Homo sapiens: one gene and its partners. The protein of the gene in region 2 interacts with the protein of the main gene of each other region in a pairwise test. Each region holds a gene or a part of one and is shown on either strand. Other genes may lie near its edges. The genes, in order: CDH1, CAMTA2, CALM3 and DLST.

Region 1 (7,686 bases), on a different chromosome or scaffold from region 2:
GAATCCCAAGTGCTTCCTTTATATCAAACCACTTTCTCCTCTCTCATGATTTTACTTGATTGGGTATCACAATAAGAGGCATTTTTTTTTTAAGAGAAATCACCCACAATTCCCCTGAGGGAACACCTCCACTGTGTCATTCTTCCAGTCTTTGACCACATGAATCTTTAGCAATCACGCTGTTGTCTTTACATTTTTTTTTTGAACTTTGGAAGTCATTCGAAGTTTTTTACAGAGAAACTACAGCTCGACTGATGAAGTATATTTGCTCTGTGTGCTCTAGAGCTTTCTATTGGATCAGAAGTTATCTCTAACTCCTGGGCTCAAGTGATTCACCCGCCTTGGCCTCCCAGAGTGCTGGGGATTGGATATTTTGATGTCAGTGGGCATTGAGGAGTGGCTTCTCGGGGAAGGCAAACTTGATCCAGTCTTGGAGAGCAAGGCAGGGGCTAGAAACAAGCTTGTATCTGAGCATGCGTCTGGGGTGTCCCAGTGCTAAGGCTGGTGACTTTGTTTTCCTGCACCAAGATATTTGGTAGCACCAAGGGTGGGTTGGTCTGGTTTTTATTTCTCCCTTCTAAGCTCCTGTGTTTGACCAATAATATTATTACATATTAACACTAATATGTTAATAATTAATAGTGACACGTATTCACTTTTGCCTCAGACTCTGGGGCAAGTGCTTCACATATTTTACCTCATTTAGTCTTCACTAGAACGTTAGGAGGGTGGGCACTGTTATTCTTCCTACTTTGCAAGTGAGGAAACTGAGGCATAAAGCAATTCTGTAATCTGAAGCATCCGCAGTTGGTCTTTTCTCTTCCTTTTTCTCCTTGTTTTTCACCTCAATAACCTGAAAAAACAAAAACAAAGAAAAAAGGTGTTTGGGGAATTAGTGTCCAATGTGAAGTAAGCTGAGAATGGAGGTGTTGACAGGGTGGGACCTCCGAGAGGGGGTGGTGATGATGGAGATGGGTCAGACCCGGGGGAGGTGGCGGGGGACCCTGGGACTGGTGATTTAGTGGGAAGAGGCAGCCTTCACACAGAATCCGCAGGCCTCTGGTGTGGTTGGTTTCAGTTCCCTTTATGTTCACAGACCCCCACCCCCACACAACAGATTTCCTGACATTTAATATTTGTTTTGGCTTTTTTGGACTGTGGGGTCTCCTTGTATCAGTCCAATGTGGAGTCGCCCCAGGATGGAAGTGCCCTTCTGGTAAAATCACACGTTCAATCTGAGGAACTGGCTTGTGATTTTAAAAGGCCGCTAGGACTTGGGATGTGGCCTGACTCTCTTTGGACAGTGCACGGAAGTGAAGGGATGGATGTAACATTGGCACCAGGTTTAGACATTGGCTTCATGGAGAATTTACTCCATGGGAATTTTGAAACTTGAAACCTGTCACTTTTTGTGCACAGGCAGCTGTAGGGTCTTAACTCAGGGGACTTTGGAGTGTTTGCTAGGGTCATTCCTCTGCCCCATGCTGTGGCTGACCCCATGATCTCAACCTTGTATTTATTCCATTGGTTTATCTCCAGCTTCTAGAATGAAGACCTTTACAAAAAAAAAAAAAACCAAACTCAACTGTAATAAACCAGTTTTTGTTTTGAGACGGAGTTTTGCTCTTGCCGCCCAGCCTGGAGTGCAGAGGTGCGATCTCGGCTCACTGCAACCTCTGCTTCCTCAGTTCAAGCAATTCTCCTGTCTCAGCCTCCTGAGCAGCTGGGATTGCAGGCACATGCCACCATGCCTTTGTATTTTTAGTAGAGACAGGATTTCATCATATTGGTCAGGCTGGTCTCAAACTCCTGACCTCAGGTGATCCGCCTGCCTTGGCCTCCCAAAGTGTTGGGATTACATGTGTGAGTCACCATGCCTGGCTAATAACCCAGTCCTTTAGAGTTGCTGCTTATTTTCCTTCTTCATAGCACACACCGGTCTGAGAAACCCAGGCTATTAGACAGTTTGGGATCTCTGAAGTATTAGCCTAGTAACCACAGCTGTAAGTTGACTCAGGCGCGGAAAAAAGAAAAGCTGGCAGGCTTTCCCAGTGATTGTTTTCTTCCTTTGCTTGCTCTGCAATCTGGCCTTGGAAACACAGGGCCTATATTTCAGTGTTGAGGTTTGGCTGCTTGAGGGGTTGACCTAGTTCACAGGCACCCAAACTTTGTGGATTAAATACACCCATTTCCCCTCCTTTTTTTTTTTTGAGACGGAGTCTCGCTCTGTTGCCCAGACTGGAGTGCAGTGACGTGATCTCGGCTCACTGCAACCTCTGCCTCCCAGGTTCCAGTGATTCTCCTGCCTCAGCCTCCCTAGTAGCTGGGACTACAGGTGTGTGCCTCCATGCCTGGCTAATTTTTGTATTTTTAGTAGAGACAGGGTTTCGACTACGGCCATACCACCCTGAACGCGCCCGATCTCGTCTGATCTCGGAAGCTAAGCAGGGTCGGGCCTGGTTAGTACTAGTACTTGGATGGGAGACAGGGTTTCACCATGTTGGTTAGGCTGGTCTACAATCTGGAGTTTTGCTCTTGTTGCCCAGGCTGGGCAAACTCCTGGCCTCAGGTGATCCGCCCACCTTGGCCTCCCAAAGTGCTGGGATTACAGGCGTGAGCCACTGTGCCCGGCCATTTCCCCTCCTTTCTGAAGGATGTGCTGAACGTTTCAGAAAACAGTATGCAGCCTCCCTAATACAATTAGACTTTTAAAAAGCAAACCCAGAAACCAGCTTTGGGATCACCTTACATCATCAGATCCCCACCCCCTACCCCTCAAACTCATAAAAGTCACTTCCCCAATTACTCATGTCTGTGACAAAGGTTGATCTGAGCTTACTGGGAAAGAAGACCAGTGGGCCGCCCTCCTGGCCTTGCCTTTGTGTCTCTGGAGGTGCGGAGGTGGAAAGTCTTGGGCCCGGCAAGGCCATGTAAAGAAGGCAGGCTGCTGCTTCCTCCCAGTGGGGCCCTGCCTGCCCCTCTCTGCCAGGTGGTTATGGAAATCCCTGTTTGCTCTCCAGGGCTTTTTATTGGGTGAGGCTTTTCTTCCAAAATGCTCACCTTGTGTCTGTTACACATTCCCTTCCAAGGTAGCCCCAGATACGCCAGAGGCTGAAGCTCTCGTATCTCCCAGAAGCTGCCCAAACCCTAAAATCCCCGAGAGGCACCTGTCCCAATCCAATCCTTGCTGGGTCTCTTTCTTTCTTTCTTTCTTTCTTTCTTTCTTTCTTTCTTTCTTTCTTTCTTTCTTTCTTTCTTTCTTTCTTTCTTTCTTTCTTTTCTTTTCTTTCTTTTGAGACGGAGTGTCACTCTGTCGCTCAGGCTGGAGTGTAGAGAGGTAGGATCTCAGCTCACTGCAACCCCCGCCTGCCATGTTCAAGTGATTCTCCAGCCTCAGCCTCCTGAGTAGCTGGGATTATAGGCACGCAGAAGCATGCCCAGCTAATTTTTGTATTTTTAGTAGATTCGGGGTTTCACCATGATGTCAGGCTGGTCTTGAACTCCTGAGCTCAAAGTGGTCTACCTGCCTCAGCCTCCCTAAGTGCTGGGATTACAGGCGTGAGCCACCGAGCCGGGCCCCTTCCTGGGTTTCTATCCTGCCTCAGCTCTATCTCCTTTGAGGGCACAAGGCTTTCAAAAAGGAGAATGAAATCATTCAGCAGTGGCTGTTTAGGATCCTTCAGCGAGGAAGTACAGGAAACTAGGTTTGAATTTTAGCCACTAGCTATTTGACTTTGAATAAGTCACTTTACTTCTATGAGTCTCAGTTTCCCCACCTGTAAAATGGGGCGGTAATACTTATTGATCTATTATGAGAATTAAGTATGTACATTCATTTAGTTCACAAAAGTGAGTGCCTGTTGTGTGTTAGCACCAGGCTAGACCCTGAGGTTACGGCAGATTGGACGGAACATACATGCCAATGGGCAGGAATGTAAAGAGAGAAAGTAGAGAGAATATTTTCAACAGTAGTTGATATTTCTTAGGGACACAGTAAACTCTCAATGTTATTTTGAGCAAATGAATGAACACATGAATAAATCGCTATCTTGGCCAATATTTTTCCCTCTCAAACTCTATGGACTTGGTCCAGCCCTTAAGGTTGATTGTAAATGGGCGGGGAAGAATTTGGTGGGTTAGAACCTTCCATTATGCTCTGTGTGTGCTGGGGATACTGTGTTCATAGCTTCCCTCTGAACAGCTGTGCAGGGCAGGCAGGGAGATCTCAAACCTGAGTCTGGAAATGGGAGGGCATATAGCCATTTTTAAGTGTTTTCCACCTTTGGTCAAATAAAAAGAAATCTGTGGTGCATGCTCACTCTTTCTCTCTCTATCCCCATCTCTAGCCATCTCCCTTTCTTTCTCTCTTCCTCTTTGTTAATGTAAGTTTCCCTAGGCCAGGGATCTCAGTGTCCCAGCTTGTTCTTGTTACTCTTGGGGGACTGGGGTTTAGGCCTCCTCCCTTTCTGCACTTTTCATCTTCCTCCTTCCTTCCTCTTACCTGCCTCCAATCCTCCACTTCTGCCCAAGATTTGGGTGGCATCTTCCCCAAATTCAGAAGGTTCTTGAATCAGACTGCCTAGATTTCAATCCAGACAATGTCACTTCCCAGCCTAGGGATGTCAGCCAAGGACTTAGTTTCCCTCTCTGTAAAATGAGCATAATAGCATGGAGACATCATAGGATGGTATGTCAAGCGTTCAGTGAATATGAAATATTAGAGCCCCAGGAGGACTTGGTGCTGTCTGTTTGAAAGTCTCCCATGTTTTACGTTTGGTTCAAAAGATCCCCTGCGCTCCCTCTCACCCAGCAAACCAGCCAAACCAGTTTCTTCACCCTGCCTGCTTCTGTGTTAAGCAAACAGTGCACTGCAAACAGTGACTAAGCCTAGTGCCTTGTTAGGAAGAAACTGGCGTTTTTTTGCTTGCCACTGTGCAGGGTGCTCAGGGTGGACCGGAACGGGTTTGTTGTGGCTTAGGAAAGGGGACCTGCTCGTGGAGGTTGTGTAGAACTGGAGTGGGAGGAGTGGGGCAAGGCGCAGCTAGGGCCGGGGGAGTCGGGATGATCTTGAACTTGTCAGCTTCTGCTTGGCTTTTAAAAGTTATCCAGGCCAGATAGATGCTGTGGCTCACACCTGTAATCCCAGTGCTTTGGGAGGCCAAGGCCGCAGGATTACTTGAGCCCAGGAGTTTGAGACCAGCCTGGGCAACGTGGCGAGACCCCCATCTCTACAAAGATTAAAAAAAAAATTTAGCCAGGTATGGTGGCGTGCACCTGTGGTACTAGCATCAAAAAAATGCAAAAATTTGCTGGGCGTGGTGGCATGTGCATGTAGTCCCAACTACTCAGGAGGCTGAGGTGGGGGGATTGCGTGAAGCCCGGGAGGTCGAGGCTGCAGTAAGCCATGATTGCACCACGGCACTCCAGCTGATAGAGATCCTGTCTCAAAAAAAAAAAAAAAAATATATATATATATGTATATATATATGTATGTGTAATATATGTGTATATATATGTATGTGTATATATATATATATATGTATATATATTTCATGATGCACATGCCTAAGAATACCTGTCTGTTCTCCTGCTGCCAAAAACGCTCTGTCCCAGCCCCTGAGATCCTTGTGGCTAAAAATCAAATCACCTAGGGCACTTCATGCAGACTTGCCCTCTTGCAGATTCACTGAGAGCCAATCTCCAAGGGTGGAGATCTGAACTTGACATTTACTTACTTATTTATTTTTTGGGATGAAGTCTTGCTCTGTCACCCAGGCTGGAGTGCAATGACACGATCTCAGTTCACTGCAACCTCCGCCTCCTGGCTTCAAGCAATTCTCATGCCTCAGCCTCCCAAGTAGCTGGGATTACAGGCATGCACCACTACGCCTGGCAATTTTTTTTGTATTTTTGTAGAGACGGTTTCACCATGTTGGCCAGTCTGGTCTCAAGCTCCTGACCTCAGGTGATCTGCCTGCCTCAACCTCCCAAAGTGCTGGGATCGCACGCGTGAGCCACCACACCCAGCCTTGAATTTGATGTTTTTAAAAGCTCCTCAGGCCAGGTGCGGTGGCTTACGCCTGTAATCTGCACTTTGGGAGGCCAAGGCGGGCAGATCATGAGGTCAGGAGTTTGAGACTAGCTTGACCAACGTGGTGAAACCCCATCTCTACTAAAAATTCAAAAATTCAGCTGGGCGTGGTGGCATGCTCCTGTAATCCCTGCTACTTGGGAGGCTGAGGCAGAAGAACTGCTTGAACACGGGAGGTGGAGGATGCAGTGAGCCGAGATTGTGCCACTGCACCCTAGCCTGGGCAACAGAGCGAGACTCCATCTCTAAATAAATAAAATAAATAAGCAAGCTCCTCAGATATCTGCTGCCACTCAATGCATTTCCCTGGACAATCCCAGGGGCTAGATGTTTGATGAGTAAATACCCCAGCCAGGATGTGGGCACCTGGTTGTCCAGCCCAAGGCCAGGGATCCCAGGTCACACCCTTGATCAGGGAGGGATAGGCTGGTGCTTCTGCCATGCCCAGGATTGAGAACTCTATGGATGCAAGGAGGGGTGGATGGGAGGCTGGGTGCAGTGGCTCATGCCTGTAATCCCAGCACTTTGGGAGGCCAAGGTGGGAGGATCACTTGAGGTCAGGAGTTTAAAACCATCCTGGCCAATATGGTGAAACCCCGTTTCTGCTAAATATAAAAAAAGCTAGCCGGGCGTGGTGGTGCATGCCTGTAATCCCAGCTACTTGGGAGGCCGAGGCAGGAGAATCACTTGAATCTGGGTGGCGGAGGTTGCAATGAGCGGAGATTGTGCCATTGCACTCTAGCCTGGGCAACAGAGCGATACTCCATCTCAACAAACAAACAAACAAACACACCAAAGTGGGGTGGATGGGTGTGGGAGTGGGGGACCCAGAGAAGTATCCAGTGCACCCAGGCCTAAGACTCACCCCCTACACTCAGGGAGATTCCAGAAAATCTCCAAGAGAGACCTCTCAGCAGGTAATTCCAGTAGGCTCCAAGAATGCCACTGGAATGAGAATGTGTTCAGGGGATGCCAGGAGTGGTCAGCTTCACCTGCTGGGCCTTGATGAGTAAGAGGGTGTCTTCCATGCAAGGAAAGGGAAAGGGCACTCCAGGAGGAGGAAGTGGGGTACCCAAAGGTGTGGCAGGGTCATGGAGGCAGAAGGCTGGAGCTGTGCCTTCCTGGGCACAGAAAGAGGAGGGAGGAGAGGGTCCCAGGATGAGGCTGCAGAGGCAGCTGGGCCAGGGTACCTCTGGGCCTTGGGCCGTGGGTCATGGAGGGTTTTCTCTTTCTGGGCTTTTCATAGGCAAATTATTCACCCGGTTAAAAAATAAGTTTAAATATACATCTTCATATATATATGAAAAAGCTTGTATATATGTCTGTATGGCAGACAGTGAAGTCTCCTTCCCACCCCAAACCACGCTTCACCCAGTTCTTCCCTGGGGCACAGGGAACAGATTTCATTAGTCTCTTGTGTATCCTTTTCAGTGTTTCCTTATGGAAATACAAGCATAGTCTTCTTTCTTTATGCCAGCGTAAATTCCTAACATATGATCCTTTTACACAAAGCATAGCATATGATAGCACTGCTCTGTACCTTGTTTTTCTCCCAGCAACGTATCTGTATGTTCTCTCTCTCTCTCTCCACACAT
Region 2 (8,468 bases):
ACCCAGGCTGGAGTGCAGTGGCGCCATCTCGGCTCACTGCAAGCTCTTCCTCCTGGGTTCATGCCATTCTCCTGCCTCAGCCTCCTGAGTAGCTGGGACTACAGGCGCCCACGACCACGCCCGGCTAATTTTTTGTATTTTTAGTAGAGACGGGGTTTCACTGTGTTAGCTAGGATGGTCTTGATCTCCCGACCTCGTGATCCACCCGCCTCAGCCTCCCAAAGTGCTGGGATTACAGGCGTGAGCCACTGTGCCTGGCAGGAGTTTCAGATTCTTTAGCCTGACTCCAAGGTTCTTCCCAACAAGGGATCAAACTTTCACTGTTCCCACTATTTACCCATATTGCTCCTACAATTCCTGCCAGATGGATCCATTGATTCCTTCCTGAACATGCTTTGAATAGTTACCTCCTGCATGTTAGTGCCCTACAAGGCAGGTACCATGTGCACACCTCTCCATATCTGGAAATCATAGCCATTCTATAAACCAAACCCCTTTTCAGATGCTCCATGAAGCCCTGCTGACCACACTGGACCTTCCTAAACGCTCTATAGCACTTACAACAATCACACATACACACATACACGCATCGTTTTACTGACAGTCCTCTTCTGACATCAAATTGATAAATATCAACAACCAACTACATACAAGGCAGTAAGTATGCAGAATACAGAAAATGTGTAACACAAGGACTGTGCCTCCTCCAGAAAGAGCCAGTATCAGTGGTGGTTAATAACAAAGGTTCCAGCCGGGCGTGGTGGCTCATGCCTGTAATCCTAGCACTGTAGGAGGCCGAGATGGGCGGATCACTAGGTCTAGAGTTCGAGACCAGCCTGGCCAACATAGTGAAACCCCATCTCTACTAAAAATACAAAAATTAGCCAGGTGTGGTGGCGTGCCTGTAGTCCCAGCTACTCCGGAGGCTGAGGCAGGAGAATGGCGTAAACCTGGGAGGCAGAGCTTGCAGTGAGCCGAGATCGCGCCACTGCACTCCAGCCTGGGCGACAGAGCGAGACTCCATCTCAAAAAAAAAACAAACAAAAATTAGCCGGGCGTGGAGGCACATGCCTGTAATCCCAGCTACTTGGGAGGCTGAGGCAGGGGAATCACTTGAATCCAGGAGGCGGGGGTTGCAGTGAGCCAAGATCGCGCCATTGTACTCCAGCCTGGGCAACAAGAGCGAGACTCCGTCTCAAAAAAAAAGGCCCTGGAGTAAGTTAGATAAACTATGAGGTAAATCAGTTTCCTCATCAATAACATAGGAGCAATAACAGGGCTTGCTCTATAGAACCGTTAGAGGATTAAATGAGACAAGGCAGGCCAAATGTTTAGCACGGTGCCCAGTATGTAAGGAATACTTTACTGGCAGTAGCTTTTGTTTTTACCCAGGTGGCTATGCCACAGAAAAGAGGGCTCCTTCAAGATCCATGTCTTTTTGTTTTTGTTTTTGAGACGGAGTCTCACTCTGTCACCCAGGCTGGAGTGCAGTGGCGTGATCTCAGCTCACTGCAGCCTCCGCCTCCCTGGCTCAAGTAATTCTCCCGCCTCAGCCTCTCGAGTAGCTGGGATTACAGGCGTACATCACCACGCCTGGCTGCTTTTTGTATTTTTAGTAGAGACGGGGTTCCACCATGTTTGCCAGGCTGGTCTTGAACTCCTGACCTCAGATGATCCACCCGCCTCAGCCTCCCAAAGTGCTGGGATTACAGGCATGAGCCACCATGCCCGGCCAAGATCCATGTTTTTATACCTCTCCTAGGATCCCCAAAGAGCTTAGAATGGTGCTCTGCACTTAGGAGTGTTGACAGACACGGAAAGACCCCCCACTCACCCTCCTCCAGCCTACTAGGTCTTGCTGGGCCCCAACCCCCAGCCTCCCTAGAAAACCTCATTTGTATTCCACCGTAGCCTCTCTGGAGGCAGCAGCGGGCAGCGAGGAAGACACTCCAGCAGCTTCTTGGGGAGAAAGATCTTCAGGTGGTGGCTGTTTTCTAAAGGGAATTAGAAGGGAGGGTTTAGTGTGCTACCCTGGGGCATCCCTGTGATAGTCCAAGGGGAAAGGGCTGAAGGCAATACAGAGCACTGGGGAAAACTGAAACCTCACTAAGGAGAACAGAAAATCCAAGAATTAGAGGGCCACTAAAGCGTGGGGAGAACGAAAGGCTGTGGCCACATTGGGAACCTGGTTTGTGAACTTACCAGCAACCTCGGTGGTGTCCTTGGTATTCATGGTGAGGGCTCCAGGGGGCAAGGTCACCCCCGGCCTGAGGGGCCGGGGGGAGGGGGAGTCTGTGCTGGGAAGGGAGAGAACAAGGTCATGGCAGAAGCCCCCACATTAATCCAGGATGAGAAGTATGAGGTAGGGAGTGGGTATAGAACTGGGTCATAGTATCTGGGAAGGATGAGGAAAGGGAGGGAGGGGCTGACTGTGATGTGACAGTAGAAGAGAGAACAACACACAGTGCCCGGAGCCAATATGAGTGAGCAGACTGGACAGGAAGAGTGAGCAGGAAGAAATGGGTTGGGGTGGGGGAGCGGGGAGAAGACTGGCAGGGCTTGGGCCTCAGAGGCCCTAAACCTTGAGCTTTTGCACAGACTGGGGCTATGGTTGGGTCAGGTCCTGGGGGTTGGGACTCAGGCCATCCGGTCCTTGGAGGATGGTTTGGCAAGAGAGCCTGGATCCTGGGGGCAGGGCAGGAGATTCTACCTCCGGTAGAAGCTAGGCCTTTAGAAGACACGCCCTGAGTTCCTTCTCTGTTTGATTTTTCCAAGGGGAAGGGCAGATCTGATAACTGAACCTAACCTATTCTCTCCTCCAGGTTGGTTAGGACCTGATAGAATCTGGGCCAGACACCCAGATTCCCACCCTCAGGACAACCCACCCTCCGGCTGACAGCCCTCTCTACGTAGCTCCCTCTCCCCAAACGCCTCTGCCTCCCCTGGCCTCCAGGCCTAGCCTACCCCATCTACCGCTCTGGCTCCAGCCTGAGCCCCCCGCCCTCCTCGGGGAACAGATGGGAGCTGGCGGAGGCTCTCAGCACGGGCTCCGCCAGGTGTCCAGGATGGAGATGGGAGGAGGCCCGTCGGGCTCGGCTATGTGCAGTGAAGCTGGGGTTGGGGTAAGGACTCCGCCCCAGGGCGCAGGTGCGCAGTCCTGGCTAGGCAGCCTGCCAGGGTGCGGAGCGGGAGCGGGTCCTTGGGCTGCACTTGGGCGGCGCCGGATCGGACGCTTGGCACTCTGGGCGGCCCCCCGGCGGAGTGGTGGTCCCAGGAGAACCTCCGAGGTGGGAGGGTCCCGCCCGCATAGAGGGATGTTCTGGAGAAGCCGGGAGCAGAGTCCGCGGGCACGCGGTGGGCGAGGGACAGTGCAGGTGCCGGGTGCGGGGGTCTCCGGGACAGTCCCCGGCACGCGCTGGTCCGCCGTGGGGCCCTGCGGTGAGCGGCGCCCCCTGGCGCGGGGGAGGAGGACGGAAGCGGGAGGTGAGGGCGAACCGGGAAGAGGGACGGTGGTCCCTGGCGCGGCGCTCCGCGTCGGGACCTGGAGGAGCTGCGCCCTCTGGCGCGGGGGCGGAGAGGCGGGCGAGAGGCCCTGGCTCTTACCTCCCGGGGTCCCGCGGGTGACGGCGGCAGCGGCCATTCTACCCCACACCGACCCCCCCCAGCGCCGGCTGACAGCGGCGTCTAACGTCACTGCGCACGGGGCGGGGCCTCCCAATTAAGGGGATGAGGGTCAGGAAGGGAACCTGGGGTCAGCACACGTGGAGTTCTGGGTGGGGCGCTGGGCAGAGGGACTCGGCTTCTAGGGCTCTGAGCCAGGCCGAGGGACAGACTGCTGGGAAGTCCCCAAAAGGGCAGCAGCACTGAGGGGCAGGATTCCAGGGTCCTGGAGGCGGAAGCTCGGCCGACTGACTCCCAGTTCGAGAGAACGGGGCGGGGGCAGCCCACCAGTGCTGGAACCCGAGGGGCCGGGCGAGGAACGCTGGACTGGGAGCAGGACCCTTCTCGCCTCGGACAAGACTCCTTGTCTGGGGACCCAGCCCGACTTCATTGTAGCTGGGTCCTCGAGAAAGCGAAAGGAGCCCTCCTTCCCCATTGGCCTCTCCATCGCTGCATCCCAAGAAGAAAGACAACTCGGGCTCCACTTGCTTGCTTTTTAATAACAGAGCAGAGAGAATACAAGGCCAGGAGCGGGGCCTGGAGGAAAACAGGACTTGGGGTGCTCCTGTGAGAGCGGTGGGTTGAGATGGGAGCCCACGGGGGCTGTTAATGCCTAGTTCAGAGGATGGGAAAGGCAGTTGGAGAGACGAAGGAAGGGGAAACGCCTTCATGTCAGCAATGAGGGTGACTCTAGTGACGGAACTAGTCTTGGGTCCCTGGGGCACCACTAGCCTCTCGGCATCGGTGGTTTCTCCTTACTCTTCAGACGCTGCCAACTCCATCCCCCAGGGATTGTGAAGGGGGTTCCTTCTGGCTGTGACAGTGCTGAACGAGGCCAGAGAGTGCAGCTGCCTGGAGGCACAAGCCTCCTCCTGATCCAGGGGGCTCCAGGGAGACCAAAGCAGCTGTCAAGATGAGAGAAATTGAAAAAGAAAATGGAAAAGTAGGTCTTCTTTCCAGATTTCCTAGTACCCAAGCTTAGGTACCTCGAAGTCTCTGGTTCTCACCTACGTTATTTTTGTTTCTCTCAAATCCAGCTCTCCAGCCTGGCTCTCAGCTTCTGCATCTCCATGCAAGACCAGAGACCCACATCACTCCCTCACTCCACCCAGTTCCACTCCAACAATACCTGGGCCCTGCCAGGAGTGAGAAAACGGTCCTCTTCCTGTGGATAGGTTGCTCTCTCCTCTTCCAGATCAGGGTATTCATTGGTGCTGGGGAATCCACAGCCCTCTTCGCCAAGCACCACTGGCTCAGATGCAGCCCCAGAGCTGCCCCACTGGGCCTTCTTCAGTCTGTGGAGACTTTAGGCTGAGGAGAGAAGTGCCTGGAGGCCAGGCTTCCTGTCTCTCCATTCTTCACCTTTCTGTTCTGAAATACTTCCTGCTGGGACTCCAGGGAGTTGTCATTTGACCTTTAACCCTCCACTCCCAATTTTCTGCTCCCCTCAGACTGAAGCATATTGTCTAGGAACCCAGAGGTGACCCCAACCTCCCCACTGTCCTCCAGTTCTATGGTTTGCTTTCCTGTCTTCAGTGATCTAGTTTCCACTCCTTCCAGCTCATGTGGCTCATCCTCCTTACTGCAGTTCCCTCCTTCTTTCCATATTACAGAAATCTGTTTCAATCACACCAAAGCCCACAGCTTCCTTCCAAGCAACCTCCCCTCAAAGCTCCCCTCAAACCTCCCCTCAAAGCTGTCAACCCCTTCCTTAGCTCAAACTGTTCTGCCCCCAAATCCTGCATGACTCCCAGAACCCAGATGTCTCCCTTCCTTACTCGTTGATGATGCTCTGACGCCTTCTTAGGTCCTCCAGGTGGTAAGTGACAGCCCTCACCCGGGCGGGGACTCCCCCAAGGCCCTGCTGCTGCATTCCTTCCAAACATGGCCTCCTCTTCTTTCTTCTCCAAAGCATTTCAGGGGGTGGGAGCTGCTCAGGAGGATACAGACCAAGCTGGGAGCAACCAGTGGCTCTCTGTGCCAGAGAATGGGGAAAAAGAGCTAGAAAGAAGAACTGGCTCTCTCAAGGGAGCTTGGATTGAACTAGGTAGGGAGTCTGGGGTCTTGGGAAGACCCCTGTGATCTCGAAAACATGATGACTGATTCATAGAAAGGAAGGCCTGGTCAGTGCACTGGTTGGGGAATAACAGAGGGAAGCGGTAATAAGGAGAGCTTGGGACAGGACAGCAGTGGGTGCAATTTTAACAGAGAAATGTTAAACGGCAGAGGGTCTGTCTTACCAGCATGGGTGGAATGTGCTGCTCCTCCAGCCAAGTGGGGCTGTGAAGAACAAAAAGGGGGCTATAAGTGCAGAGGGGACATGTCCATCCATATTGCTTCTTTAATAATCTCTCCCGACCTCCTTTCTGTCATTAGGAGCTACAATGTCCACCAGCCAGTGGGAAATTAACCGCAGACTAGGGCCTATTGCTATATGGGTTTATGGTAGTTTAATCCAGTTAAGACCACATCCAGTTAGTTTCCATTTTCTCCTCTACTCACGTGGGCCTTTGATTAAGGTTCTTCCAGAAGACATCTCCATAACGCTGGGGCATGGGTCTGAGGCTCTGGGAAGGCAACCTTGGGGGTGGAGATCGGCTGACCACCCTGGAACACCTGAGGTGAGGACAAGGTAGGCTCGGGTCTGGCTCTTCCCTTACAGCAGTCTACTCATCCCAAGGATTCAGGGGCCATCTTTCCATGGGACTATAAAGCTGCCCAGGTTCCCTCGGGCCATGTCCTCTCTTAACCACTTTAGCTGAAGAAGGTGGTAAGGCCTCTGCTTTGAAAGGAAATTGAAGCTGGGTTGAGGGTGGAGATTGGCTATAGTTTGACCCTCAGATCTCACTGAGTTTAAGCTCTATATCGGGGATGTCCAATCTTTTGGCTTCCTGGGCCACATTGGAAGAAGAAAAATTGTCTTGGGCCACACATAAAGTACACTAACACTGGCCGGGCGTGGTGGCTCATGCCTGTAATCCCAGCACTTTGGGAGGCTGATGTGGGTGGATCACCTGAGGTCTGGAGTCCAAGACCAGCCTGGCCAACATGTTGAAACCCCGTCTCTACTAAAATCACAAAAAATTAGCCAGGCGTGGTGGCGGGCACCTGTAATCCCAGCTACTCGGGAGGCTGAGGCAGGAGAATCACTTGAACCCGGGAGGAGGAGGTTGCAGTGAGTCGAAATCGCGCCATTGCACTCCAGCTTGGGTGACAAGAGAGAAACTCCGTCTCAAAAAAAAAATTGCAAAAAATCTCATAATATTTTATTTTATTTATGTATTTATTGAGACCGTTTCACTCTTGTCACCCAGGCTGGAGTGCAATGGCACGATCTCGGCTCACTGCAACCTCCACCTCCCGGGTTCAAGTGATTCTCCTGCCTCAGCCTCCCGAGTAGCTGGGATTACAGGCACCCACTACCACGCCCGGCCAATTTTGTATTTTTAGTAGAGACGGGGTTTTGCCATGTTAGCCAGGCTGGTCTTGAACTCCTGACCTCAGGTGATCCACCCGCCTCGGCCTCCCAAAGTGCTGGGATTACAGGTGTGAGCCATTGTGCCCGGCCTAATCTCAACGTTTTAAGAAAGTTTATGAATTTGTGTTGGACTGCTTCAAAGCCATCCTAGGCCGCAGGTTGGACAAGCTTGCTTTATACCTCATAGTTAGAGAAGGTAATATTTAGCAAGCAGAGTTGTTAAAGAGGAAGGCCTTGGCTACTCAGGTTATATGACAGATAGGATTCATTTAGGTCAATGCAAGGATCCAGGGGAGAGAACCTCTGTTTACTTCATTTGTCTCCCCATCTCAAAAGGACTAATATCCTTGTAAATAGGAGTGTGCAGAGCTGTTTGAGAACACTGCTCGTCACTTCCAAACCCCACAGGCTGAATGATGATTGCCCTCCTGATCTCTAAGAAATGGAGTATGTTAGGGCTTAGGCCTGGGGCCCTTTATCTTCTCTGTCTTCATCTCTTCTTAGGTGATCTCACCCAGTACCATGCTGTCAATAAGCTGATGACTCCCAAATCTATATATCCAGCCCTGGTTCCTCTCTGGGCTCCACTCAACATCTCCTCCCCAACCTTCCTCCTCTCAATGAAAAGCACTCAAATGCCCAGTTGCTAAGACCAAAAACATGGTATGTCTCACTTTCCCTCACCTCCCACATCTAATCCATCAGCAGTTCCTGTCAGTTTTACATCTAAAATACTGTGTACCTGAATTTGACCACTCCTCATCATTCCCACTCCTACCACCATATATTTCAGGTCATCTTCCCCTTCCTGGACTGTTGCAATGGTCTCTTCCCCCCGTCTCTGCTTCCATTCCCATCCCCCAACAATATATTCTGCACAGAACTGTGAGAGATGATCATACGAAATAATATAAGGTTTGAGATGTACTTCAAAAGAATTTGAGAAATAGGGGGCTAGATGGGTATAGAGATGAAAAGATTATCCATACAATGATAATTATTGAAGCTGACTGAAAAGGGTACATGGGGTTCATGATACTATTTTCTCTACTGTGTTTGTTTGAAATTTTCCATAATAAAAAAAGTTGAAGGAAAAAAGGCTGGTCATGTCACTCTCTGCCTTAAAACTTTTCCACTGAATAAAATCCAAACCGTTTTTTTTCTTCTTCTTTTTTGAGACAGTCTCACTCTGTCACCCAGGCTGGAGTGCAGTGACCCAATTATAGCTCACTGCAGCCTCAAATTCCTGGGCTCAAGCAATCCTCCTGCCTCAGCCTCCTGAGTGCTGGGACTACAGGCGTGTGCCACCATGCCTGGCTAATTCTTTTAA
Region 3 (7,639 bases), on a different chromosome or scaffold from region 2:
AGGACCATGCCTTTCTCACCACTGTAGATCCAAACTTGGCATGTTTTGGCTGCCTGTGAGACTAAAGCAGTGAATGCCACCCCTCTCCCCAAAGCATCAAGAGGCTCACCCACTGCAGGGCCTGCCCCTGCCTTCCTCTCTTCACCCGGCTGGGCTCCAAGCTGCTCGGGGCTCTCACCCAGTCTCGCTGGATTTCCTTCAGTTCCTTGATGTCTGGGCTTCTCTTGCCTCAGGGCTTCCATACATGTCGTCCCCCCGAACTGGAATGCCCTTCCGTCCTTCCCCTACCCGGCTAGGGGACTGCCCATCTTTCAGGTAGGTCTCAGCTCAGTCCTGCCACCTGACTGGGCTGACCCCTTCTCTGTGTGCTCCCATGGCATGATGGGCCTGCCTCAGAGGAGCCTTCTCAGTCCCCGCCTTTCAGTCCATTTGTGCGACTATCTCTAGGACAGGACCCTGCCGTTGATGACCCTGCGATCTAGCTGGGATCAGAACTGTGGTTCAGAGGCGTCCACTGGGCTGCACTGACTGGACACAGCTTCAGAGCCAGCTTTGAGGAGAGGCTCTTCCACCTCTGGGCCAAAGGAGTCAGTGCTGGGGTTGGTGTGTATGTGTGTTGGAGGGGGGCAGGCCAGAAACTGAGACAGGAGGAGAGGAGCCAAATCAGGTAGTCACTGTATTTTATTGGAAAACATTGATATATATTTTTCTTCACAGCTTGAACTGAACACAATATTGCCCGGTTTAAAAAAAACAAAACCAAAACATTCCGAAAATGTCCACAGCCTCACGCCTACCTGCCCTTACCCTCAGCTCTTGGCTGGGTCTCCCACTATGCCCCATCCCTCCTTCCCTCAGAGGCTGGGTGCCAGAGGGTGGATGAGAAGAGATTCTCAAAGCTGGGCAGGTCCCAGGAAAAGCCACTTGATCGACCTGGGCAGTGAGGGGAAGCAGGGGGTGGGGGGTGGGGTGGGGAGGTGGTGGGGGGAGCCAGATGAAATGAACAGAAAAGGGGAAAAAACCCAGACGACTGAACTGCCCACATTGACTTACTTGTCCCAGAGGCGAAAGTCAGAAGCAAGGGCACGGATCATGCTCTCCGCTGGGGGAGTATGGGGGCAGGCAGGTGGGCGAGGGAAGAGGCAGGGAAGAGGGCACGGAGCACAGATGTGAGGAAGCGGCGCCAAGTCACCACGGAGAAGCGGGAGGTGCTGGCGGACCAGGACGCAGAGGCTGCTGTAGCTGCCGTCCCCTGGGCAGCTGGCCGACAAGACTGTTTTATTGCAGGTGCGTTCTCTTGAGAGCGTGGTGGGGCCCATCTTCCCTCTCCCCACCCTTTAGCTAGCCCAGCATGGTTCTGAACAAAATGAAAGTCTTAAGGGCCATAGAGGGGAAAGAAAAAAAAAGAGAACCAGCACATTACAAAGCGACCATCCCCACATCCATTCCTAGGACGGGCCCTCAGGGCGGTGGGTGCATCGTGAGGAGGGAGCGGCATGGGATGTTAGCACCAGGTATTTACAGAACAGCTCGAGAGCGCTTCAGGAACGCGGGCAAGTCCAATTTGCAGAGTGGCCAAATGAGCAGTCCCCACCCAGCCAAACCTCAGAAAGCCAATCAGATGGTTTCAGAACAGCAGCCAGTGGGATGTGAGTGTTGCCCACTGTCAGTCCCCTTCTGTGAGTTGGCCCCCTCGACCCCCTCCTGGGCCACATCCAGTCAACGCCACAATTCCTCAACGCCCCCTCAGTCCTTCTGGAATGCCTCTCTTGGCACCCCTGCCCCAACAGGCTGCTGGGATCTGCACGTGGAATCACAGGGCTGGTTGCATGCAACGGCAAAGGGCATGCTCTTCTGCCTGGGGGAGGGCCTCTTGTCCCTCCCAGCAGGTCCCGGGACAGGGCTGGCAGCCACCCCAGCACCCAAAATAAGATGACAAACAAGAGGAAACAAACCAAAATGGAGGAGAGCCATCCGGGCTGGAGGAGGGCAGAGGCTCCCCAAGGGGATCTGGGGAGGGCTTCAACTTATGAATGCATCAGGCCTTGGAAGACATGGATGGAAGAGGCGAGGGCAAAAGGAAGAGATGAGGGGCATGGAGAGAGACTCAGGGAAGAAGGAGAAAGAGCAATCATGCAGCTTGGGACAAATCTTTTGTTGCTTTATCAGATTCTCAGTCAATCAATTGGTGTTTGCTAGAACCGGGGTACGCAGGGGAGTGTTGAAGAGAGAGTGCGCGCGCGAGAAGAGAGAGATCAAGAGAACGGGCATCGCCAGCTGCCCGGGGGGCCTTCACTTTGCAGTCATCATCTGTACAAACTCTGTGGAGTGAAGCAGAGAGAGAGGAGGTCAGGCGGGCAGGCTAAGTGGCGAGCGGCCCTCCCCAACAAGAGGGATCTGGGGGCTTGTTCCTGAAGCTGCGATTCTCTTCTTGTTCCAGAGATCAAGCCTGGCCTTGACTCACCTTCATAATTGACCTGGCCATCTCCATCGATGTCAGCCTCCCTGATCATCTCATCCACCTCCTCATCGGTCAGCTTCTCCCCCAGGTTCGTCATTACGTGACGCAGCTCTGCGGCGCTGATGTAGCCATTCCCATCCTGGGGGTTGGGGATAAAGCCTTTCACTGGGCACTTCTCCCGGTGGGGAGAGAGGCAGTGAGAGGGGTGGCTGTCATCACCATCCCTCAGCAGTGAGCACAGTGAGGGAGGCTGCCTGAGGTGGCAGAGCAGGTTGGCAATGAGGCTGGCACCGGGACCCGGACCTCCTGGAAGTGGTAGCTCCGTGGCTCCAGTTCCGCCTGTCTGCCTGAAGGCTGGCGTCAGTCTCAGAGCCGCCCCTGGAGAGGGCTGCTTACCTTGTCAAAGACACGGAACGCCTCTCGGATCTCCTCCTCACTGTCTGTGTCCTTCATCTTTCTGGCCATCATGGTCAGGAACTCCGGGAAGTCAATGGTCCCGTTCCCTGGAAGGTGGGGAAAGGATGGAGAATGCTCTTGGCCTGGGCCCTGAGAGACACGGGCTCATCCATCACCCTGAGAGAGGCTCCCTGCAGTCACTCGGGGTGACCAGGAGCAGGGCTGCCCACGCGCTCTGTGGGGCTCACCATCTGCATCCACCTCATTGATCATATCCTGCAGCTCTGCTTCAGTGGGGTTCTGTCCCAGGGATCTCATCACTGTCCCCAACTCCTTGGTGGTGATAGTGCCATCTCCATCCTTGTCAAAGAGGGAGAAGGCCTCCTTGAACTCTGGGGGAAGAAGGGGGAGGAGTCAGAGGTCACAAGGTCCACAGGAGAATCCTTACCTCTGGATGCTGGATGCCTTCCCTGGAGGAAGGCCAAGGGCATCAGTCCCACCTAAAGAAACTGAGACAGACTTCAAGTCCCACGCAACCAGCTCTCTCTCCTCAGTGCTCAGGGCAAAGCCCTTCCAACCTTCATTCAACAGTTATTGAACATCAACACTGTGCTAGGTGAAGCTATTTTTCTGGCCAGCCAGTGAAGACAGTGGGGAAAATGGTCTGACAGCTGTCCTTAGATGATTCTACATTTCTGTTTGGTCCCTGGCTTTGACTTCTCCCTTGAAATGATGAAATGAACCAAAGTCATGGAGTGAATGAGAGCCGAAAGGATTCTTTGTCTGAGTGTGTTAGCCAGGGTTGGCTGGCTGGGACGAGGAGGGGAGGCTGCAGAATGCCTCTGGCCGGCCTGAAGAGGAAATGCAGGCATCCACTCCCTTCTGACTGGCAGCCCTGTTCCTTGCCGTGGGTGCTACCAGCTTCCAAAGGAGCTGAGCCACTGCGTGTGGTGAGCGTGGGGGTGGTCGGCAGCAGAACATGGCTGACGGACAGTGCGTGGGGTTGATGGGGGGATGGAAAGCGAGGGGACGGCTGCCAAGCCAGGAGGATGAGGAGCTAGCAGTGCTGAGTGGGAAGGCCACAGCTGGGGCCGCATCAGGGGCAGGGAGAAAAGCACATGGCTCTTGCCCTCCCACTGGGCCCATTTTGGCACCTGGTGCTCCTCTACCCCCAAGCCCTCCAAAAACAGATGTCCGGCAGCCTATTCCCAGAGGGTGTGGGCTGGGGTGAGGCGGTGGACAGTTTGCTAATGGGGACAGGGTGAAAAGCAGACCGTTTATGTTGCACAAGGCCAGAGTTGGGAGATGGGTGGCAGGTGCATTGGGAGGGACATGCACAGCTGGGAAGCTGTGGCCCTGAGCCTCTGGGCCCTGGGGACATGGCAAGAGTCTCTTTGGGGAGGCTGGCACCTCCCTGTGCTGAGGCCTTGTTGTTCTTGGGGAGGGCAGGTAGTGAGTGGGTCATGGGGCACCCCGAGCTCATGATCACTAAACCAGGCCATCTTCTGGCTTTCCTCAGGGGTCTCCATAGCCACCCAGGGCCAAAATTTTGAAGCTGCAAAGGTGACTCTGTGATGCGGGTTGAGGGGAGAAAGGAGAGAAGGCAAGTCCGTTCCTGCCTCCCACCGCAGAAGCTGGGCCTTTAGTACTTGTTACACAGCCGGTTGAACCTGACAGCAGAGCTGGGGGCTGGGTAGCTGGTGGGGAGCAGAGGCCCATTCTCTGGATCGCTACTCTGGTCTACTGTGTGCTGGCCCCTGGCTATGGAGATAAACCAAGAGTTGCTCTCTGTCCTCGGGCAGCTCAGTATGGGCGGGTAGGCAGGCACGGATCTGTAATTACACAATAGTTCCTGTAGCTGACCCTTCTGGGGTTTTGGAGGGGTTAGAAAAATGAATTAGATGGGATCCAGGGATTTCTTCTAGCTTGCTGAGAGAGAGATGTTTGTTTAGCCAGCAAAAGTTTGCGGAGGACCTACTACGTTCTAGGCAGGCATTAAGGCTATAGCAGGGACCAACAAAACCAAGTCCCAAACTCAATGGAACTCACATCTAGTAACAGGAGATACAACAGGTGAAGACATAAGAAAATAATTTCAGACAGCGAGAAAGGTTATGAAGAAAATAAAGTGATGTGAAGGAGAGTAAAGGAAGGCTGTGTACTTGAGATGGGGGTCAGGGAAGGCCTCCCCGAGGGGACATCTGAGCTAAGGGACGGGAAGGAGCTGCCCATGCAAAGCACTGGGGAGGCACTTCCGCCAGCAGAACAGGCAGGCGCAGGCACATGCGAAAGGAAGTGCAAAGCGCAGGCAAGCGCAGAGGTGGGAGTGACGAGCCAGCTCCTGGGCGGCTCCTAAAGTGGGACAGGAGCTCTGCAGGCCCCACAGGGAGGCAGGGAGCTCACCTTCTAAGCCAACCTGGCTGAAGCTGGGAGAGAGAGTTGGGCTCGTCCTGCAGCCACTGATATCAAGCCCCTAGATGACCCAGGCCCAGGAGAGGAACACAGCCTTTGGTGTCTGGTAAAGGCCTGTCTCAGGGCCATGGGGCTTCGTGTCATTGGGGCACTGGTGTGCTCTTACACACATTTATCAGCATTCTAGGCACAAGGCATAGTGTTAGGTGACACAAGGGATACACAGGTTCACCCATCAGATGTCACTCCTCAGTGGCTAAGATTTGGCTGGGGATGTGGAGGCTTTCCTGAGCTAAGATGAGGGGGATAGCAGACTCACCTGCAATCTGCTCCTCAGTCAGCTGGTCAGCCTGTAAAAGCATGAAGGGGAAAGTCAGTCACCAGGCCGGACAGCACGGACGCATCTTCCTCACTCAGCCCAGACCCTCGGCCCCAGTGAGGCCAGCTCCACGTGCCATTCCCGCCGGGCCAGGGAGGAGCATGCCAGAGTCAGGGTCTGAGGCAGAGCCAGCGCCTGATGATAAAGTCTGGTGATTCAGAAAGCTGGGTACCAGGGTGGGCTGGACACTCAGGCCTGCTGGACGCACGGCCCGATGAAGCTGCCCAGACCCACGGGCTTCCAATCTCAACTCAGCATGTGGGAGCCACAGGGGCGGGAGAAAAGCCTGCCCCAGCCCCAAACCAGCAGCGCTGGTGAGGCCTGGCACAGGTTTGCATCTCATCAGTGAGAGCCCCAGAGGCCGAGTGAAGGGAACGATTGCCCTGGAGGCCTCATCAAGAAGCTCTAGAAGGCTCCAAACTGAAGCAGGCCAGTCCTTGGGTAGGGCAGAGGGACGATGTCTGGGGCTATCTCTGCTAGTTTCTGTGTCACCTATTTGGAGGCGGTTGGCTCAGGCAGAGTCCACCCAAGTGGCAAAAATTCTCCTAACCGGCGGCCCGAGTTGCTCAAGCACCTAAAGAACTCTGGTCAGGCTGGAGGCAGGCGCTCCACCCCCTGCGCACAGTGAGGGCACAGGGCCATTCTGTTTTGTTTCTTTTGGGCAGAAGGGACAAACGTCAGGGAGAGGGCTGCAGCGGGCAGCAGCAGAGGACTGAAGCTGGCTTGCACTGCAGTTTTTAACCCTTTCCAGCTTGGGCACTCTGGGGACTGGCCAGTGGGTGGCAGGCAGCCCTTGCTGCATGCGGGGTTTGGGGGTGGGGAGGAGATGCGGGGACTGGCTTCTCCTGCACTGGTGTGCTGGGCATCAGCCAGGCATAGTGATCCTATGGGGCAGGAGCGGGGCTGGGGGGTTGGGGAGGCTGAATCCCAACATTTAGCTTTAGCAGCCAAAAGACACATTTTCCCTGGTTTTTGTTGATGCTGTGAAGAAGGCACCACCATCCCGGGACCATGGTGGGTCTGTTCCCCTTCCTTTCACAATCAGGGAAAGGGGCTCCAAGTCTATAGCATGTTCTAGTCTCGAGTCTGAGAGCCTCAGAAATAGAAGCAGACTATTATGTGAATTTGCAGTATTCTACGGAGAGGTTCCAGAAGCTAGGAACAAACCACTGCCTGCCTCCCCTACCCCCATCCCCGTCCCAAATATTAACAATCACTGATCTAAAAAAGTTAGAAAAAAAAAAAAAAAACCTAACGGAAGAAGAACTTGCAAGCCCCAAATAGGCAGAATGGGAGGGGTAATCAAAATGATGATCACAGAGGGGAGAGGGCTTAGGGAGGGGGAAAGAGGAAGGGAGAAAACGGCACACATGCACATTCTGGAAAAGTCCAAAGTGTAAAGGGGAGGTGGGGAGGCCAAATGAAGATTCTTCTGCATTGCCTTCAAAAAAGACAGGGTGGTTGGGCTTCTAAATGCCAACCTGGTAGCCCCAGGCCCATGAGCCTCTTGATCCACCTGCCCCCCACCTCCCACCATGGACAAAAAAGCCTGGAGCCATCCCTTAGGTCCTGACACCTGAGGAAGAGGCTTAGGGAAAGTGAGAAGGGAGGATGGGCTTCTGGTTACCGAGACCAGGCAATGCCCAGGGAGGGTCAGGGAAAGAACAGAGAGGAGGGCAGCAGTGTGGGGAGGTGGCTGCCATCCCATCTGCTTTTCATTCTTTCCCCTGGCCTAGAATGGAAAAAGCGAGCCAGGTCAGGGCCTTCCCAGCCCACTGTTCCGCCCTGCAAGAAGTCCAGCTCCCCGGACCTTTGGGCAGCACTGTAAGGGGCTGGGGGTGGGGGCGAGGAGGCTGTGACAGGCTGCAGACTGCCCCGAGCGGCTCTGAAGGCCACCGTTTGCCAGTCTCCACCAAAAGACTGGAAGATGCAGATGAGGCACTGCCATGTTCAGTTCTGTCACAGGGTTGCTGCAAATAGGCGTGGCTCTG
Region 4 (7,686 bases), on a different chromosome or scaffold from region 2:
GCAAGAATACTATTAAAAAATAGGCTGGGTGCAGTTGCTCACGCCTGTAATCCCAGGATTACAGGCCAAGGGATTACTCCCCTTGGGAGGCCAAGGCAGGCGGATCACAAGGTCAACAGATCAAAACCATCCTGGCCAACATGGTGAAAGCCCGTCCCTACCAAAAATACAAAAATTAGCTGGGCGTGGTGGCATGTGCCCATAGTCCCAGCTACTCGGCAGGCTGAGGCAGGAGAATCACTTGAACTCCGGAGGCGGAGGTTGTAGTGAATCAAGATCAGGCCACTGCACTCCAGCCTGGCGACAGAGTGAAACTCCATCTCAAAAAATAAAATAGTCATCGAGGGTTGACTTAGGCTTAAGAAAGCACTTCATCCAGGATGACTCATAAATCACTGAAGTGGCCAAGTAATAATCTCACAACTTTAAATGAAATGTTTGTTTCTGTTTTTCACCCATCTGGACATTATATCCAGGGTTAGTGCTAAGACAAACTTCTGCAACAGGAGGACTACCTTATTTCCCAGCCTTCTACCATACATGTTTTCTACTCTGAGCTTCTGGTCTTGCCTGACTAACCTCAATCATGCGGTCTATCTGCCTTATTAGTGTAACAGTGAAAAAGAAATAGACTTCTGTGACTCGTTGGTCTACGGGTACGATTCTCGCTTAGGAAAAAGAAATAGACTTTTTAGTGGTTATAAAATTTAACTAAGAGTCAGATAAAGTTATTAATCTCTAATCCTATCAGGTCCAGTACAAATTCGTTTCTCATTTCTTCCCAAAAGAAATACCAACCCTTCCTAGAGATATGAGAGAACAGATGTGAAAAGAAACAACACTGAATTCCCCATAAAAGACAATGAGCATTTCCTTTGAGCATTCTGTCAGTGCTCAAAAAGTTTTGAAGCATTTCAGATTTTGGATTTTCAGTTTTGGAGCATTTCAGATTTTGAATTTTCAGATTAGGTATGCTCAATCTGTATATCTATAAGAAAAGGTCCAGTTTCTCAGCTCCTGCTAAGAAACACCCATGGAAAGAACAGAGTATAAGGTTTATTTTTTAAAAAATACACTTTTCTTTTAGAATTTGACATTTGAAGTTCACACTATATATAAATTTACCCCTTATTCCCTCAACTAAGGGCAGCTGGAATGACAAGAGTCTTTGACATATCGGGGAATTAGCACATTATGCTCAGTCCCAATCCCAAGAGGGAACACTGGAGACCTTGACCACCAGGAGAACTTCTTTACCACCAGTTTTCCTGAGTGTGAAAAGTGGAGTGCCTCCTTCGACTTTTCCCCCATCAGGTACCAAAAGAGCTTCAATCACGCCATTTGCTGGTGATGGAACCTGCACAGATGTCTGGAAGAGGAAGACAGATGGAGGAAGTCCAAATGTTTATCCAGCATTAGAAAATTAGCTGTATAGAATCTCCAATGAAGCCAGGCACAGTGGCTCATGCCTGTAGTCCCAGCATATTGGGATGCCAAGGCAGGCGGATCACTTGAGGTCAGGAGTTCAAGACCAGCCTGGCCAACATGGTGAAACCCCATCTCTACTAAAAACTACAAAAATGTAATCCCAGCTACTTGGGAGGCTGAGGCACGAGAATCGCTTGAACCTGGCAGGTGGAGCCGATATCGTGCCACTGCACTCCAGCCTGGGTGATAGAGCGAAACGTCTCAAAACAACAACAACAACAGCGTATCTCCAGTGAGTAACAAGAGTTGCAACACAATATATAAGGCCTTGCACACAAACATCTAAGGCCATAATTTCAGAGCAAGGGTGATAACAAGTCATCGCTACTGTGAAGATTCACTTTCTGTCCTTTCTCAGAAACATTCAGGCAATATTCAGTTAATATGTTTCCAAGTGATACAGGAAAAAGTGGAAACAGCTTATTTACCCTCCCCACCCCCTCACCACACACTACAAGACTAAAGCTACTAAATGAAGTACATAGTACACACACAGCAAACAATTTAAAGTTAAATGCAGGTCAGGTGCGGTGGCTCATGCCTCTAATCCCAACACTTTGGGAGGCCAAGGCGGGCAGATCACCTGAGGTCAAGAGTTTGAGACCAGCCTGGCAACACCTGTCTCTACAAAAAATACAAAAATTAGCCCGGCGTTGTGGCATGCGCCTGTAAGCCCAGATACTAGGGAGGCTGAGGCAGGAGAATCGCTTGAACCCAGGAGGTGGAGGTTGCAGTGAGCTGAGATCAGGCCATTGCACTCCAGCCTGGGCAACAGAGCAAGTCTGTCTCAAAAAAAAAAAAAAAAAAAAAAAGTTAAATGTAAAAAGTTGTTTTTTTTTTAAATTGAACAAATCCAATAATTTTACAACTGAAGTTAGAGCTAGTTAAAAATTATCTCTAAACAATGGTTAAGTCCCTGTTTCTTTCATTAGGTTAACTAAGGGAAGCCCATGAAAAGCTGGTACGAATATAAGATAAGCCTACCTTGTCAGTTTCAATCTCACAAACCACTTCATCTTCTGCAACTGTGTCTCCAACAGCTGAAAAGACAATCAAAGGCTACAAGGCTACCTGTTAGCGGGGAGCCTCCAGTAGCCACAAAACCCATTTTGGCAGGTATGTTATAAGAACCCTTTCCTACAGGGCCAGCAGAAAGTACATATGTAAAGAAAACGGCAGAGCTATAAATTCTACAACTATCCTGAGGGGAGGGGAGAATTTTAGATAGCACTTAAACTTAAGAAGTGAGAGGAGCCAGGCGCAGTGGCTCACGCAGTGGCTCAGGCCTGTAATCCCAACACTTTGTGGCAGGCTGAGGTGGGCAGATCACCTGAGGTCAGGAGTTTGAGACCAGCCTGACCAACATGGTGAAACCCTGTCTCTACTAAAAATACAAAAAACTTAGCCAGGCATGGTGGTGGGCACCTGTAATCCCAGCTATTCGGGAGGCTGAGGCAGGAGAATCACTTGAACCTGGGAGGCAGAGGCTGCAGTGAGCCGAGATCATACCACTGCACTCCAGGCTGGGAACAGAGCAAGACTCTGTCTCAAAAAAAAAAAAAAAAAAAATAGGAAACTAAATCTTACCTTTCTCCCACCTGACATCTCCCTCTGTGACAGATTCTGCAAACGCTGGGGTTTTGACTGTAACCAAGTCATCCTCTAGGAAAAATGCAAAAAAGAAAATCATAAGTAGTTCATTTTTCCTTTTTAATATTTTTCTTTAATTAAACTCAATCAATTGTTGCTCTTCCCATAAAATTCCATTCCCAAGAAAGCAGGTACTTACTGCATACAGCTGTAGTTCTGAAAAAGCGAACACTGAAGACACTGTTGTTAATGCTACAAAAGAAACACACGTTAACTCCTTTTAACAGGCGAACCACTCACATTTTAGTCTAGTTAAGGCCCCATGGGTCACCTTCCCCTTAAACAGTGACTCTTGACCAGGGGTGTCCATCAGTGTCACTTGGGGAGGAACTTTTTCAAAGTTCACTTGTCTAGGCCTCTCCCCCAGGGATTCTGACTCAGCAGGTCTGGAGTAGAGCCTAACGACCCAGGTACCTTAAATGGTGAGCTCCCCAAGTATGCTCAGGCCCCTGTGCTGCAATGCAATGCCAACTCTCACAAAACAGACTTACATTTGGCTCTTTCAATAAAAAAATAAGCACCTTGGTCCTTTGCAGACCGAAATGACTTAGCTTCTTGATTTGGTTTTTTGTTTTTTAAGAGATAAGAGTCTTGCTCTGTCACCCAGGCTAGAGTGCAGTAGCATGATAATAGTTCACTGTAACCTCAAACTCCTGGATTTAAGGGATCCTCCCACCTCTGCCTCCCGGGTAGCTGGGACTACAGGCACATGCCACCCAGATAATTTTTTTAAATTACTTTTTGTAGACTATGGATTTCATTGCCCAGACGGGTCTCAAAGATCCTACCCAAAGTGCTGGGATTACAGGAGTGAGTCACCATGTCCAGCCAGGTCTCTTCCTTAACTAAATCCGAGATAGATTTACGGCCTGCCCAGGGTACAAGCCATTGTGCAAGGTATAATGGAATTTCTGCCCTCAAGATAACAGATTTAGATCAGATAAGGCAGCAAGATTAACAAGGTTAACTCGGAAGTAAAACAAGGTGTTATGCCAAAAAAAAAAAAAAAAAACCCAAAAACAAAAAAACCACACACAAACCCCATATGGTATCTCCTACTCGGTTCTCTTGCTAGAAAACAGCACATCAACACATTCTGGATTCATTCAAAACGAACCTCAAAGACCAAGGCGTTTACTGATATGGCCTTTACAGTAAATAATATAAACTGGAGAATCAGCTCACCCTGTATGCACAAAGCCATTAACAGTGGTTACCTCTGAGGGGTGAGAGATGTAGACATATATGGTATCTCTGGTTATGTGTTGCACACTTACACAATTTGGGAGAATGATTTGGATGGGGACTTTCACTTTTTACACTTCAGGATTGTCTGAATATTCCACAACAAGCATTTTTATAATAGAAAAGTAAAAGAGATTTAAGTTGTCTTTAGGTATTTTTACTTTTATAATGTCAAAATAACTATAAGGTCTATGTATAACCAAGAAAAAATGAAGATATTTAAAAACTACAAGAATACAAATTGTTCTACATATAGTTTGTAACCTTGTAAAGTACATGCCTATAGGCAAGAACTAACAGGTAACATGCAAGTGCAGAGGCTGCTCTGCAAGTCATCCAGGAACCCGGAGTGGTGGCCACCACTACCCAAGAGGCATTCGGGGGGCTAGAGGACAAGGATAAAAAAGTCTTCTCATGGACACCCTTTTTACTTTTTGAATTTTTAATCATGTAAATATAATACTATTAGTAAAAACATAAAACCAAAAATTGTTTTACAATAAAAGATTTATTAAATAAAGTGGGTACCTTATTCACAAAAAAGGCACAACACACACAAAGATACTGGATTAGGGTGACATGATTGGGGTGATCCCACACAAAGTTTACTTTTTCTTCATTATTTACTTTCAAATATTTAGTGTATTTATTGTAGAGAGTCATGATTGCCCCAATTTTCATTTGATTGCAGATGAGTAATACATTTTGAATCTCTAAATAACTAGATGTTCACTACAGAATATTAGAAATAGCAAAAAGAATACTTACAATGGGATCATACCACACAGTAGAAAATGAAATTATTTTGTAACCTGCTTTTTCCCACTTTTCATAGTGTGAACATGTGAACATGCTATAGTTTAGCCAATCCCTTGCTCTTTGCCATTTTAAGATAAATCTGATAATATTTATATTATCAGATATTAAATCTGAGATAAATATACCAGGAGTTCTTCAGTATAGATTCCTAGAGATGGAATTGCTAGATGAAAAGGAACACACAGGCCGGGCAGTGGCTCATGCTTGTAATCCCAGCACTTTGGGAGGCTGAGTCGGGCGGATCACCTGATGTCAGGAGTTTCAGAGACCAGCCTGGCCAACAAGATGAAACCCCGTCTCTACTAATACAAAAATCAGCCAGGTGTGGTAGCGTGCGCCTGTAATCCCAGCTACCCAGGAGGCTGAGGCAGGAGAATTGCTGGAACCCGAGAGGCAGAGGCTGCAGTGAGCCGAGATCGCGCCACTGCACTCCAGCCTGGGTGACAGAGCAAGACTCCATCTTGAAAAAAAGAAAAAAAGAAAAGGTACACACACTTCAAAGACTTATGACTATCAAACTGCCCTCCAAAATAACACCGGGATTCATATTTCTAGTACTGAGTGCAACATTTACTCAAATTTTAAAAAATCAGCCAGGCACCATAGCTCACGCCTGTATCCTCCACTTTGGGAGGCTAAGGCAAGTGGATGGATTGCTTGAGCCCAGGAGTTTGACACCAGCCCAGGTATCATGGCAAAACAACCCCATCTCTACAAAAAATACAAAAAACAACCGGGCATGGTGGCATGTGCCTGTAGTCTCAGCTACTCAGGAGGCTGAGGTGAAAGGATCTCTTGAGCCCAGGAGGCTGAGGATGCAGTGAGCCAAGATCAGGCTACCGCACTCCAGCCAAAGTGGCAGAGCAAGATCCTGTCTCAAAACAACAACAACAAAAACCCTCATTGTGATGTAGAGTAAGTAAGAAGCTCATCCGCTGACCTCTTCACTTTGAGGATTCTCCCTGTAGAGTAAGCAGCCTGACAGCTGCTGAACAGGTTACTAGAGAGCATTCTCTTAGCACCACCACAAAAACACTTGGAATGCAAAGCAGCATTTAAGCAACATTCATACGCAGAAGTTAATCTGAAACACACATGGGTAGCCTTTCTCCAAACTCTGCATTATGCAATAACAGCATTCCCTCCAAACTAGTCAGTCAGTCCCAGGACTCAACCAGTTTTATGCTTTTACTGTTTTTAAAAATGAGTAACTATGCTACTGAGAGGATGCTCTCAATCTCCACAATAAATGTAACCTCGAGCCTTTCAGCTGCACTTACATCCAAACAGAATATCTAGGAGCACCCTTCTATATCCCATAAAAAGAGGATTCCAACTTAACTTTCATTATAATCCAAACACCTGTGGAGAGTGGGCACACTCCCAGTCCAAAACCTGACACGGAGCTGATGCTCAAGGAACATCACATGGGAAAAGTGAACATTGAGGTTAGTCTAGGGACTCAACATAATCACCTCAATTTCTAGGTCTGGAGGCCAGTGAAGAAATCAGATGGTCAAATTTAGAACTTTATGTCTTTAAATAAATAACCCGTGGCCACATATCTGTACTCCCCAGTGATACTTACACAACCTTCCTGCTGTTAGGGTAACCTGGTCCCTGGCATAAGGAGACCCCTGCAAGAAACAAAATAACTCTTAACCAACAACTCTTATCTCACAAAGGATACATGCTGGGAATGGAAAAGGTCTGCTCACCCCCAACCCTGAGACAGAGCAGGATCAACGGCAACGGATATAATCTTTATCATAGAGTCCTGCTTCTCAAACTTTTCCAAAGTAGCCTTAGTGGCAGAGAGCAAATGGGTATGTGAGATCGAGTGGGTATGTGTTTGGCTGGGGAGGAAAGAGAAAAAATTTGATGGCACAGCCCAAAGTGATTATATAATCTCATCTACCTTAAAAAGCCAGAACTTTTCATTATTCCTGTATGTTTTCATAATAAAATGTCTCTACTCGCCAAGTCTTCAAATACAACTGAAGCTTGAGAAAGACATGGGATGGCTTATCCTGTGACTATACATAACCCAATTTGAGAAGCAAGGAGGATGTTTGGTCTGGGTTTGAAAAGATTGGGTTGGAAATCTTATCACCTGAATCCTAGTAGCAAAGACTTGGCTACTTTAGGCTCGGGGTCTCCAGTTTGTCCTAGAGCTGAGAAAATCATGTCCCCATCTTTCAGTTTATTGACTTCCCATGCCTTTCTGAAGTCTTCCACCCTGGTCACTCTCAACAAGGTGAGAGACCCTTTCTGCCCACCAGCTGTCCTTATCATAGTTAACTGCATTTCCCCAACTGATGACTAGTAACTACAGCTGCCTCTTCTGAATTCTTTCTTATGTCTTTTTTCTTTCAGATTAACAACTCTTTCTGAACCATGGGCTCAGGACACACCAAATGAGAGCTAGCCCTCTCTTATGCCCACCTCCTCACAAGCATCCCAAGATAGGTAAGCCAGTCACCT

Evidence for each region.
Region 1: the proteins of CAMTA2 (region 2) and CDH1 interact in binary tests that used the Homo sapiens proteins (3 or more experiments, as listed by UniProt).
Region 3: the proteins of CAMTA2 (region 2) and CALM3 interact in a two-hybrid assay, tested with the Homo sapiens proteins (2 studies listed by BioGRID).
Region 4: the proteins of CAMTA2 (region 2) and DLST interact in binary tests that used the Homo sapiens proteins (3 or more experiments, as listed by UniProt).

Annotation. Positions count from the first base shown.
Region 1 is NC_000016.10:68,740,088-68,747,773, forward strand, and holds part of CDH1 (cadherin-1 isoform 1 preproprotein), read left to right. Parts: intron 1-2,391; exon of another isoform or gene 2,392-2,486; intron 2,487-7,686.
Region 2 is NC_000017.11:4,983,990-4,992,457, forward strand, and holds the start of CAMTA2 (calmodulin-binding transcription activator 2), read right to left. Parts: upstream 3,687-8,468; 5' UTR 3,641-3,686; coding exon of another isoform or gene 3,604-3,640; intron 3,473-3,603; exon of another isoform or gene 2,970-3,472; coding exon of another isoform or gene 2,965-2,969; intron 2,298-2,964; coding exon of another isoform or gene 2,234-2,297; coding exon 2,203-2,233; intron 1,995-2,202; coding exon 1,891-1,994; intron 1-1,890. Other genes in the region: protein INCA1, read right to left, coding at 4,416-4,565, 4,790-4,955, 5,439-5,635, 5,901-5,940, 6,163-6,276. UniProt on the Homo sapiens protein: Transcription activator. May act as tumor suppressor.
Region 3 is NC_000019.10:46,603,807-46,611,445, reverse strand, and holds the end of CALM3 (calmodulin-3), read right to left. Parts: intron 5,620-7,639; coding exon 5,589-5,619; intron 3,623-5,588; exon of another isoform or gene 3,250-3,622; coding exon 3,106-3,249; exon of another isoform or gene 2,965-3,105; coding exon 2,858-2,964; exon of another isoform or gene 2,601-2,857; coding exon 2,465-2,600; exon of another isoform or gene 2,441-2,464; intron 2,349-2,440; exon of another isoform or gene 2,322-2,348; coding exon 2,293-2,321; 3' UTR 664-2,292; downstream 1-663. UniProt on the Homo sapiens protein: Calmodulin acts as part of a calcium signal transduction pathway by mediating the control of a large number of enzymes, ion channels, aquaporins and other proteins through calcium-binding. Calcium-binding is required for the activation of calmodulin.
Region 4 is NC_000014.9:74,884,739-74,892,424, reverse strand, and holds part of DLST (dihydrolipoyllysine-residue succinyltransferase component of 2-oxoglutarate dehydrogenase complex, mitochondrial isoform 1 precursor), read right to left. Parts: intron 6,840-7,686; coding exon 6,791-6,839; intron 3,331-6,790; coding exon 3,278-3,330; intron 3,151-3,277; coding exon 3,076-3,150; intron 2,529-3,075; coding exon 2,473-2,528; intron 1,370-2,472; coding exon 1,258-1,369; coding exon of another isoform or gene 1,199-1,257; exon of another isoform or gene 367-1,198; intron 1-366. UniProt on the Homo sapiens protein: Dihydrolipoamide succinyltransferase (E2) component of the 2-oxoglutarate dehydrogenase complex. The 2-oxoglutarate dehydrogenase complex catalyzes the overall conversion of 2-oxoglutarate to succinyl-CoA and CO(2).